3 linked regions of the Homo sapiens genome follow. The protein of the gene in region 1 purifies or fractionates together with the protein of each later gene. This does not show direct contact. Each region holds a gene or a part of one and is shown in the gene's direction. Other genes may lie near its edges. The genes, in order: MOCOS, SEPTIN8 and PSAT1.

The links.
Region 2: the proteins of MOCOS (region 1) and SEPTIN8 fractionate together in Homo sapiens (co-fractionation; one large-scale study listed by BioGRID). This does not show direct contact.
Region 3: the proteins of MOCOS (region 1) and PSAT1 fractionate together in Homo sapiens (co-fractionation; one large-scale study listed by BioGRID). This does not show direct contact.

What each region holds. Positions count from the first base shown.
Region 1 is NC_000018.10:36,193,918-36,197,567, forward strand, and holds part of MOCOS (molybdenum cofactor sulfurase), read left to right. Parts: exon of another isoform or gene 1-390; intron 391-1,339; coding exon 1,340-1,429; intron 1,430-3,650. UniProt on the Homo sapiens protein: Sulfurates the molybdenum cofactor. Sulfation of molybdenum is essential for xanthine dehydrogenase (XDH) and aldehyde oxidase (ADO) enzymes in which molybdenum cofactor is liganded by 1 oxygen and 1 sulfur atom in active form.
Region 2 is NC_000005.10:132,760,200-132,763,849, reverse strand, and holds part of SEPTIN8 (septin-8), read left to right. Parts: coding exon 1-144; intron 145-1,204; coding exon 1,205-1,366; intron 1,367-1,953; coding exon 1,954-2,050; intron 2,051-2,223; coding exon 2,224-2,392; intron 2,393-2,584; coding exon 2,585-2,717; intron 2,718-2,857; coding exon 2,858-3,048; exon of another isoform or gene 3,049-3,650. UniProt on the Homo sapiens protein: Filament-forming cytoskeletal GTPase. May play a role in platelet secretion. Seems to participate in the process of SNARE complex formation in synaptic vesicles.
Region 3 is NC_000009.12:78,300,101-78,303,750, forward strand, and holds part of PSAT1 (phosphoserine aminotransferase), read left to right. Parts: intron 1-501; coding exon 502-562; intron 563-1,853; coding exon 1,854-1,923; intron 1,924-3,650. UniProt on the Homo sapiens protein: Involved in L-serine biosynthesis via the phosphorylated pathway, a three-step pathway converting the glycolytic intermediate 3-phospho-D-glycerate into L-serine.

The sequences.
Region 1 (3,650 bases):
AAAATGTGGTATATTCATACAATGGAATACTATTCTGCCATAACAGGAATGAAGTTCTGATACATGCTAAAATGTGGACGTACCTTGAAAACATTATGCTAAATTAAAGAAGTCAGACACTAAAGGCCACATATTGTATGGTTCCTTTTACATGAAATGTTCAGAACAGGCAAATCTAGAGAAGCAGAAAGTAGATTAGTGGTTATCAAGGGCTGGGGTTGGAGGCATTGGGGAGTGATTGGTAATGATATGGGATTTCTTTTGGGAATGAATGAAAATATTCTAAAATTGGTATTTATGTAATTTTATGAATATGTTAAAAACCACTGAATTGTATACTTTAAGAGAGTGAATTTTATGTTATATCTCAATAAAGCTGTGATAAAACAACCCATTCTACACAAAACAAAATATTTGATAAGTGAATGAATGGATCTCTTCACATTATATGTACTTGAAAGTGTATCTCAGAGTTTGTTTCATGTCAGTACTTATTATTAGTGTACAATGTTTATTTTAAAAGCGCATTGATGGATATTTAAGTTGTTTCCAATCTTTTGCTATTGCAGGCAATAGTTCGTCGAATAGCCTTATATTCAGGTCATTCCACAAAAGTGTGGGTATTTGTAAGATGAATTCCTGCAAGTGGAATTGCTAGGTCAAAGGGTGTGTACATTTTAAAGCATGAACTGATGTTGCCAAATTGCTGAGCATAAAGGTGTACCTGTGTACCCTCCTACCAGCCGTGTACCAGTGAGCTTGTTTCGCCACAGCTTCATTCACACAGTGAGGAATCCAACCACTGATCTCTGCCAATCTGATCAGTAATCCGCGGTATCTCATTTTCATCTAAATTTGCATTTCTCTCAGAGAGAGGTTGGATGGATCATTTGCATTCCTTGTATTCTTGGAAGCTCTGCAGCTGCATTAGTGTTGAGGGGTGCAGAGCAGTGTGGGAAAGTAGGATCAGGGCTCTCCCCTCAGGGACTCCTCCCAGAACCTCCAGAATAGGTTGTGAGTGACAATGTGAAACAGCTTTGCCATCATTCATCACGAATGTCTGCTGGGCGTCTTCTCTGTGTGGGATGCTGTTCCAGGTTCACAAAAGAGTGAAGAGAGCTGATTAATCAGGAGGGCTCTCTCAGTGCTTTAAAAGTCCTTCAGCATTAGAAGTGCAGTCCTTCCACTGCTCATGCCTACACTTGGATTAAGAGGCACATATCAAGAGGCACAAGTCAGTGGCCTGATGTTACGTCTGCATGCATTAGATGACATTGGTTGGGCTTACACAAACCAGATTCAGGTAAAATTTTAGTATTTATTTTGTGTTTTCTTTCAGGAACTGTCTATCTTGACCATGCAGGTGCCACCTTGTTCTCCCAGAGCCAGCTCGAAAGCTTCACTAGTGATCTCATGGAAAACACTTATGGTAAAGAAAAACACCTGAAACAGGTTTTAGTCAACTACATGCAGCTGATATACCTGTGCATGTTAAACGCTGGATTAATAGGCCAGGAATATTCTGACCACAAAAAGCTGAATAAGCCCCATGTAAGATAGGGGCCAGGCAAGCACCCTGGGTCATTCTGTACTGTAAACATGTGGCCGGGATGGAGGGAGCTGGCTCAGGGACAGACACACAGGTTACTACCAGAAGAAGAGGCCAGTGTTAGGAAGGGCACAGAGATTCAAAGGTGCTGTATTTGGTGGTGGTGAGTGACCCTGTATAGTGCAGAGAGTGGGGCAGCAGGAGGGATGTTAATTCAGTCATTCACTCTATAACTGTTCATTGAGCCACTATGATGTGTGGGGGACAGTGCTATAATGGGAACAAAATAAACATATCCCTTTCTTCTTGGACACTGTGATCTAGTCCTGGAAGACAAGACCTTAAGTGAACTCCAAATAGATGTGATTACCAACTGTGTGAAGGACTATGGACAAAAGGTGCCTGGTTCCAGGCCAGCCTGTATCTGCAGTGACAGTGGGGTTGGCTTGTGCATGTCTAGGGAAAGCTTCCTTTGGAGTGGAGTGGATGCTGGAGGATGAGCCAGAATTCACTCAGACAAGAGGGGGAGAAGTGCGAGCAGGCAGGGTAACAGCCTGAGCCAAGATCCCATAGTGGTTTCAGGAACCAGTCCAGGAACACGGAAGGGAGAAGAGTGGGAGAGGTCTGAATGGGGAGGGAGGGAGAAGAAGCCAGTGCAGGGCATTGTAGATGCTTGATCTTTGTTCTAGGAGCAATGGCATTGTCATCAGTGGCATTTATTTGCAGCACAACATGATCTCACATACTTTGGAAAGGGAACTTGAAATCATAGTGGCAGTAGCAATTGTAATATTTGTGATGAGAATAACGATAAGTAACATTTATCAGGTACTCGCTATGAGCTTTCTCTCTTCAGCCTCACAACAACCCAAGAGGCATAGGTTCTGGTATCACTCCTGTTTTATAGGTGAAGAAATGGGGCCCCAGAGAGGGCAAGTAACTAGCCTGAGGCTGCACAGGAAGGACTGGAGCTTGGAGGAGCTAGAAGCTGTGTTTGCAGGCAGTTTAGCTCCAGAGCCCAAGCCCTTAGCCTCCACCAGAGTGCCTCGATTCAGGATACTTCTGTTATGCCACATTAAGGGGTTTGGATTTTGGCTCTGGGCAGCCAGCAGATATTTAAATCTGGGGAACAGTCTTCTGGGAAGGTGCCAAGGAGGGATTTATCCTGATTTTAATCTGCAGTTTGCAAAGGTTCTTGTAATTCTCCTTCTTTAACCTTTGCAAGAGCCATAACCGTGGGAAAGCCTGAGAGATGGCAGAGTTGAGATTGCAGGTGGTGGTAATGATGCAGCGCTAAAGCCAAGCAGAGGAAAGGCAATGAGGATAATTACCAGGTCCCACAGGTTACTAGCAATGTGGAAACAGAACATATGGTAGCTGCAGTGGCCAGAAATCCAGTGCAATCTTTCAGTGTATTTTGGAGGAAAAAAAAAGTCTAAAACTAAAGGGCAAATTCTGCGTTAATGAGCACATGTAGCTCCTGAGAAATGCTGGTGCCTGGTCTTATAGGTCAGGCCCTACCAAAGCCTGTCTGGGGGTTAAGTTTGAGGGAGGTCATGATACTCTGGGACACATTTGGTGAGGACACCAGGAAGGGAGCAAAACTAGAAGTTAAGAGGAAGAGTGACATTGGGAGGAGGGCCTTCCTCCTTGAAAGTGGATGGCTAAGGGCAGCACAGTGGCCCCCTTCACATATTTGGAGGCCGGGATCAATTATTTCTGCAGGAAAGGCATCAGCAGTGGTGGTGGGATCTGCAGGGCAATACGTGGGGACTTAGATTAAGTGGCGTTCATGGCTCTGCTTCATGCTTGGAGAAAAGGGCATCCTCCTGAGGCTGTATACTGCATTCTCTGGAGTTAAACAGAGCCACAGCCACCTGTCTGGAACATGTAGAACAGACTCTTGCACTGGCCTGCTTCTGAGCTGACTTCCAGCTCTAAAATACTCTTCCCGATCACATTTGGTTTTACTAGTGAGGAGAGATTTTTTTTTTTAACTATATCATAAAATTTACCAGCTGGGTACAGTGTCTCAGGCCTATAATCCCAGTGCTTTGGTAGGTCAAGGTAGGAGGATTGCTTGAGCCCAGGAGTTCAAGAC
Region 2 (3,650 bases), on another chromosome or scaffold:
TATCTGCAGGAGGAGCTGAAGATCCGCCGCTCGCTCTTCGACTACCATGACACAAGGATCCACGTTTGCCTCTACTTCATCACGCCCACAGGGCACTCCCTGAAGTCTCTAGATCTAGTGACCATGAAGAAACTAGACAGCAAGGTATCCCTGTCCCCACCTGCTGTCACAGGCTCCATAGTCTTCTGCTGCGATGCGATGTGGTGGCTGCCTCATGCCTGAACACCATGGTCCTCAGGGACCTGGTCGGGGGCTTGTGGGTGGCCCCCCATTGGCTCGGTCCTCTCTCTGTCTTGCGTCTGTTCCTCCTGCTCCAGTGGCCCCCAATGCTCTGGGCTCATTCTCCAGAGTCCTGTGCCCTGGGTCTGACCCTGAGCCCCTTGCTTGCAGCTGAATCATTCTCATTGTCAGCCCCTCCCGCTCCCGATAGTGTTTGTTCCCCTTCGCTCCAGGGAACCTCCCTTCCCATCTCAGCCTCTTCTCTGCTCATTTTCTATCTCTCAATTCCTAATTTCTAGCTCCTCCTTTCACTTCCCCCTTCCTCCCTGACATAAATGTCCTTTGGTTCCTTCTGAGCCCATCAGGGAGAGGAGAGTTAAGGCCCAGAAATGGGATGTGAATGAGGGGTGGGTACTGTAGGGGTAGAGAAGGGAGGCAGCTTCATGGGAAGGACTGGAAGTGCTGTGCATCTTGAAGGGCATGTGACCCCACATCCCTTGTCAGCTCTCACGTGACTGCCCTCCCATCTCAGGAGTTCATTTTTATTGTAAAAAACGGGATAGCCTGGGCCTGGGAGATTTTGGGATCTTCTTATGGCTACTGCTGATGGGTCCTTTTACCTGCTTAGTGGGGAGCATAGCCCCCCCACCACTCCTTCTGTTAGGCCCCAGGCCAATTAGGACCTTCAAAGGATTCTGGGTCAAAGCTGGGTATGCCTAGGGGGACCAGTTTTGGGGCTGGATGGTGATTTGGGGGAACCAGGGCTGTAAGAAGCACTGCAGCCAATTGTTGAAACTCATCAGAATGGCCACAGGTGGCTGGGTTTGCACTATGGCTGCCCGTGGGAGTGGCTCCATCTCTCTGGCCTCCTTCCCCCTGCCCAGGGATATGGCCTGGGCATGTCTATCCATATCCTGGGCATGGCATGGGAACCACCGCTCAAAAGAGCCAACCAGCCTGCTGTCCCCTCCCCTGATCCTGGCAGGTGAACATTATTCCCATCATCGCCAAGGCTGACACCATCTCCAAGAGCGAGCTCCACAAGTTCAAGATCAAGATCATGGGCGAGTTGGTCAGCAACGGGGTCCAGATCTACCAGTTCCCCACGGATGATGAGGCTGTTGCAGAGATTAACGCAGTCATGAATGTGAGCGTTGGGTGAGGGCCTCAGGGCCCTGGGGCCAGAGGGCGAGGAGCCGGCACAGATCTGACACAGCCCCAGGAGACTCTTGTTCCCCAGGATTCCAGCCTTAGCTTCTCCAGGACAGAAGGGTGGGCATCTGGAGCTGGCCAGTCCTACATCTGTGGGCAGGGGACAGGAAGAATCTGATAGTGGGCCTACACTGGGGACCCCAGGTTTGGGTGTCATAAGATCTGGACTCATGGAGGAGCCTGGAAATGGAAGCAGTTGAGCAGGCTTAAGGGTTTGGGAACCTGGAAGGGAGCCAGGCTCACAGGTCCTTTCAGGAAGCTCTAATGGCCCCTGGGAGGCCCGAGTGCTGAAAGAACAGCCTGGAGAATCAGGAGCACCAGGGAGGGGGTTGAGGGTTCAGCCCACTCCCCTGTTTGGAGTTCTGGGACATTTCTCCAGAAGAGAGCCAGGAAGTAAGCATCTGGCCCTGGAGCCTTTGTTCAGGTCTGGCTGCCCCTCCCTAGGACCCAGGGGCAGGGAGGGAGAGTCTGCCATTAGTCTGTGTCAGCTCAGGGCTTACGCATACCCGGGCCCCTTTCCAGGCACATCTGCCCTTTGCCGTGGTGGGCAGCACCGAGGAGGTGAAGGTGGGGAACAAGCTGGTCCGAGCACGGCAGTACCCCTGGGGAGTGGTGCAGGGTGAGTGTGGACAGGAAATGCATCCTGGGGGTAGAACTGAGTTCCCTGGCCTGCCCTGCTGCCTGTAGTACCCTGTGCTGTTTCCTCCTCATGCCCACCTGCGTGCCTACCCTGACTCTGGAGTGTGCCCGCCTGCATGCCTGCCTGATACCCCACCGGCCCTCTGCTTTCAGTGGAGAATGAGAATCACTGCGACTTCGTGAAGCTGCGGGAGATGTTGATCCGGGTGAACATGGAAGACCTCCGCGAGCAGACCCACAGCCGGCACTACGAGCTCTACCGGCGCTGCAAGTTGGAGGAGATGGGCTTTCAGGACAGCGATGGTGACAGCCAGCCCTTCAGGTGACAGCCTGAGCCAGAGTGAGCCTGTCTTCACAGCTGTGGCCAGACACACCACCCTGGCATCTGTTCCCTGAGGGACCCCACATCCTCTTACCCCTCGTGCCCACATGATTCTACTTCTCTGGCTCTGCCCTGCCCTATCCCATTCCGTCATAATCCCATCCTTGGCCTCTTTTCTCTGGGTCTCCACAGCCTACAAGAGACATACGAGGCCAAGAGGAAGGAGTTCCTAAGTGAGCTGCAGAGGAAGGAGGAAGAGATGAGGCAGATGTTTGTCAACAAAGTGAAGGAGACAGAGCTGGAGCTGAAGGAGAAGGAAAGGGAGGTATGTGCCAGGCTGGGGGCTGGGATGGGGAAGCTGAGGGAGGGAAGGCCTGGCTGAGGGTAGAGGTGGGGGTGCCTTCCTGGCCCAGGCTCAAGCCCTCCTCTTGCTCCCCGCATCTTCTGCCCCCTTTCTGATGCCAGCTCCATGAGAAGTTTGAGCACCTGAAGCGGGTCCACCAGGAGGAGAAGCGCAAGGTGGAGGAAAAGCGCCGGGAACTGGAGGAGGAGACCAACGCCTTCAATCGCCGGAAGGCTGCGGTGGAGGCCCTGCAGTCGCAGGCCTTGCACGCCACCTCGCAGCAGCCCCTGAGGAAGGACAAGGACAAGAAGAAGTAGGTGGCAGGCTGCGCCTGCGCTGGCTCCTCTTGCTCCTGTGGGCTCTTGCTTTCGTTCTTGTCCCTCACCTCCCTTCTCGCTCTCCTGCTCGCCCTCTCTTACCCCTTTCCTGTTTGGTTTTCCCTCATCTTCAGTGGCTCTCCCCCCAGCTTTCTTGGTTGCCTTTTTCTTTCACTAGTGATCCAGTGTCTCGCCGTCTGGATTGCTCTGATACTCATGCAGTCTCACTTGCACAGGCAATCTTGTGCTCCCCCTCCCTCTCCCTTCTCCCTTTTTCTCTCCTTCTCTTCCCCCTTCTTCCTCTTCCTCCAACTTTCTTGCTCACCCATTCGCTCTCCCATAGCCCCCTTGGCAGCTGTGGCCCTGTTGCAGCGTGGTGAAGGTGGGGCTGCACGGGTGAGGAGCAGCGTGGAGAGGGCGAAGCTGCAGGGCTCTGGGAATGCTGGGAATGGTCTTTCAGGCCAGGGGCGGGACAGGACCTGGGAATGTCAGCATCTCCAGCCAGATTCCAAAAGCCGTGGTGGTTTCTGCTTGGACACCTGTGGCGCATCCCTCCTCAGTCTGTGGGGCAGTGGTGTGGAGCCCGTATTGGCTGGCA
Region 3 (3,650 bases), on another chromosome or scaffold:
TGTGCCAGTCTTGTTGCAGCACCCTGGGACGAATCTTATTCACAGCAGGCTCTTCCTTCTTCCTGCCCACCCCACGCTTCCCAGTCTAGCACCTTAGACCAAAAGAGATCGGAAAATTGAGTTACCTGTATAATCTGGGCATAATTTTTTTATCGTTGTCCCTTTAACCCAGAACTTTATGCATTCTTTACTTTAGCTTTAGGAGAGTGGTGAATGAGATTTGTGAAGGGGACATTTTCTAGGGAATCGGTAAATTCGGGCCTTTGGAAAAAGTGTATCAACATCAGTCACATTGCCTAATTTCATGCTTACCTTGTGTGTAAGTTGCATAATCGCTGGCTTTGTGGACATGGGAAGGAAGGAGACTGGCTGTGGGTGGGGATGGAAGCCTGGGGACCTCACTGTAGACCCTTCCTTGTCCCCTCGTCAGGTTTGTATGTTCAGAGGGAAAGCAGTGCAGAACATATTTAAATAACCCTATTTTCCTTTATTTTTTTCTAGGTGTTGTTAGAGATACAAAAGGAATTATTAGACTACAAAGGAGTTGGCATTAGTGTTCTTGGTAAGATTTACTTTTGAATTCTGTGAATGTCCATGTTTCAAAGGAAGCTTTTTTTTTTTTTTTTTTTTTTAGAGGCAGGGTCCTGCTCTGTCACCCAGGCTGGAGTACAGTGGCGTGATCATAGTTCACTGCAGCCTCCAACTCCTGGGCTCAAGTGACCCTCCTGCCTCAGCATCCTGAGTAGCTAGGACTATAGGTACACATCACCACACCTGGCTAATTTTTTTTAAATGTTTAAAACATTTTTTAAAGATCCCATGAGATGGGATCTCACTTTGTTGCCCAGGCTGATCTGAAACTCGTGGCCTGAAGCCATCCTCCCACATTGGCCTCCCAAAGTTTTGGGATTACAGGCTTGAGCCACTGAGCCCTGGCCCAAAGGGAACTAATTTAAATGCATCAAATATAGAATTACAGGGCCTATAGGGTCTTCCTATAGGCCTTTATAGATACATTTTTAAACTTTAATAGCTTGGGTTGCATGTCTGATAGAAACCATTTTGAAAATAGCATAAATGCTGGTGAGAGGTTCTGACATCTCAGCTTACCCTGTCATAATTGGTTTTTGCTAATCATAGGATTTAGGATCAGAAGATACTGTATATTTGCATAACAGTGCCTCCAAACATTTATAATATTGCTTTACATTCAATTTACAGTTTTTATTATACTTAAATACAACCTCATTAAAGTTTAAAAGTACATAAGCCTTTTATGAAGACCTCGCACATTGATAATCTTATTAAGTTTCCCCTATATTTTTTGGGAAGAGGACCTCTGCATTCTAAAACTTATTTTCTTTTATTTTTGGCGGTTCTGAAGACTGCATGGTATTAAGAGACCATAGGGTTAACTATATTGCTTATTTCTGTTAAATTTTGCTCCTGTTGGTTTGGGACATATACTTAGATTTCTGTGAAGTGAGATCACAGCATGGAATTTTGTGCTCCAGACCTAAAGGGCAACTGTTGCACATGGATTCCTGTTTGTGAGAAAGAGATGGTAAGAAGAATCACAGAGAGCATCACGGAGTGATGAATTAATAAATAACTTGCTCAGTGAATGTACCACTTGAAAAATCCTTCTGCCATGACTATAAAGCTAAAATGTTTGCAATTTGAAAATCAGTTTGTATGGTCCCCTAAACTAAGTGAGCCTTGGCCCACAATTTGAATGCAGAATAACTGAAATTTCCCTGTATTGTTGTTTACTTGCAAATTTCGTAGGTATTTCTGTTCATTTGGTTTTGAGCTGGAATATTTGTTATTGTTGTTTATCTTTCCTTTCACAGAAATGAGTCACAGGTCATCAGATTTTGCCAAGATTATTAACAATACAGAGAATCTTGTGCGGGAATTGCTGTAAGTTTTAAAAAGACCAAATCATGTTACTTTTGTTAGATACTTCCTAAATCTGGATGTCTTCCAGTATTTTCTACACTCTATTGTTTGTTCAGAATATTTCATAATTTAAAATAATCCTTGTAAGATTCTCTCCAATTCACTATTAGTACCTAACGCTTTTTATTTGTTCCCCATCCCGTGTTTATATGTTTTTGTTTTTATTTTATGTGATATTTCCAAAGATTTGAAATCATTGTATCTAGGAATGATTTTTCAGCACTGTGGCAGTTAAACTGGTGTGAAAGAGATGTAAATGACACAGAAATGGTCATCTTTGTCAGCATAATTGACTATAAACTAGTTCAGGTGTTCTCGAAGTTTGAGTCTCATACGATCTGTCAGAGTCACCTGGTTAGGGGGAATATTAAAAAATTCAAGTGGGGCCGGGCAAGGTGGCTCATGCCTGTAATCCCAGCACTTTGGGAGGCCGAGGCGGGTGGATCGTGAGATCAGGAGATCAAGACCATGCTGGCTACCACGGTGAAACCCCATCTACTAAAAATACAAAAAAAGAAAAAATTAGCTGGGCATGGTGGCGCATACCTGTATTCCCAGCTATTCGGGAGGCTGAGGCAGGAGAATCGCTTGAACCAGGGAGGCGGAGTTTGCAGTGAGCCGAGACCGTGCCACTGCATTCCAGCTTAGGTGACAAAGCGAGACTCCGTCTCAAAAAAAAAAAAAAAAAAAAAAAAAAAATCAAGTGGTGGGCACCACTTAGTCCTGCTGAATCAGAATCTCTGGAGAGACTTTATTTTTAACAGGCTCTTTGGGTAATTGTAAGAGTTCTGAACTGTAGGAACTACTGCTTAGACGAAATCTCCTGGGTTATCTGTACTGCCTTTCCTATCCAGAGAATCCCTTATTCTTAAATAGATTGCTATTTAAAGGAGAGATTTTTATATATTATATAAACATGTTCACATAAACCTACGAATATAGCAAGTTTGAAAGCATACCATTTTTTTTCCTGCTCACAGAAATAATGCACATTTATGGTAGGAAAAACACTGTAGCTCACAACTAAACTGAAATTAACTTTAACCCCACTAATCAGGGATAATCACTAATATGTTAGGACCCATTCTTGCATTATTACATTAACAAAATTGGAATTATACTGATTATTTCAAGTTTTCTTTTTCAAATTGCTTGATAAAATGATTCAGATGGGGCAGGCTTGGTGATATTTCTGTGAGGAGCTGTAGACGCTAATTGCAATGTGAATGTTCAGAGCTGGTAGCCATCTGCTTGGCTTCTCTCGTCCATTGGCCTGCTGAGTATCATGTCACATTCATAGGACAATCCTGTCCTTCATGGAGTGGGTATTTGGAACATCAGCCTGGGAGAGATGACATTTGACCACATGGCTATGAACTTCCTCTGACTGGGGTCCCAGTTCAATTTAAGGGCCTATCTTTTCTTCTCCTAACCTGGTTCCCACCTTGTATACCTGTACCTAGACCTCGGCCTGGTTTCTTTCCATCTAATTCTTGGCCTTGTTAACTGCCCTGCATCTGAATAATGTGAACCTGGAACTCTGTCTTGGGTTATCAGTCTTCCCAGCTGCTAAGAACCTCATGGCCAGAGTCTCCTAAGACCTGCTGGTTGCTTGCTATCCTACTAAGCACTGAATATAGGCCATACATCTTTCAGGACAAGATATTTACACTCCTACCACCCCATTC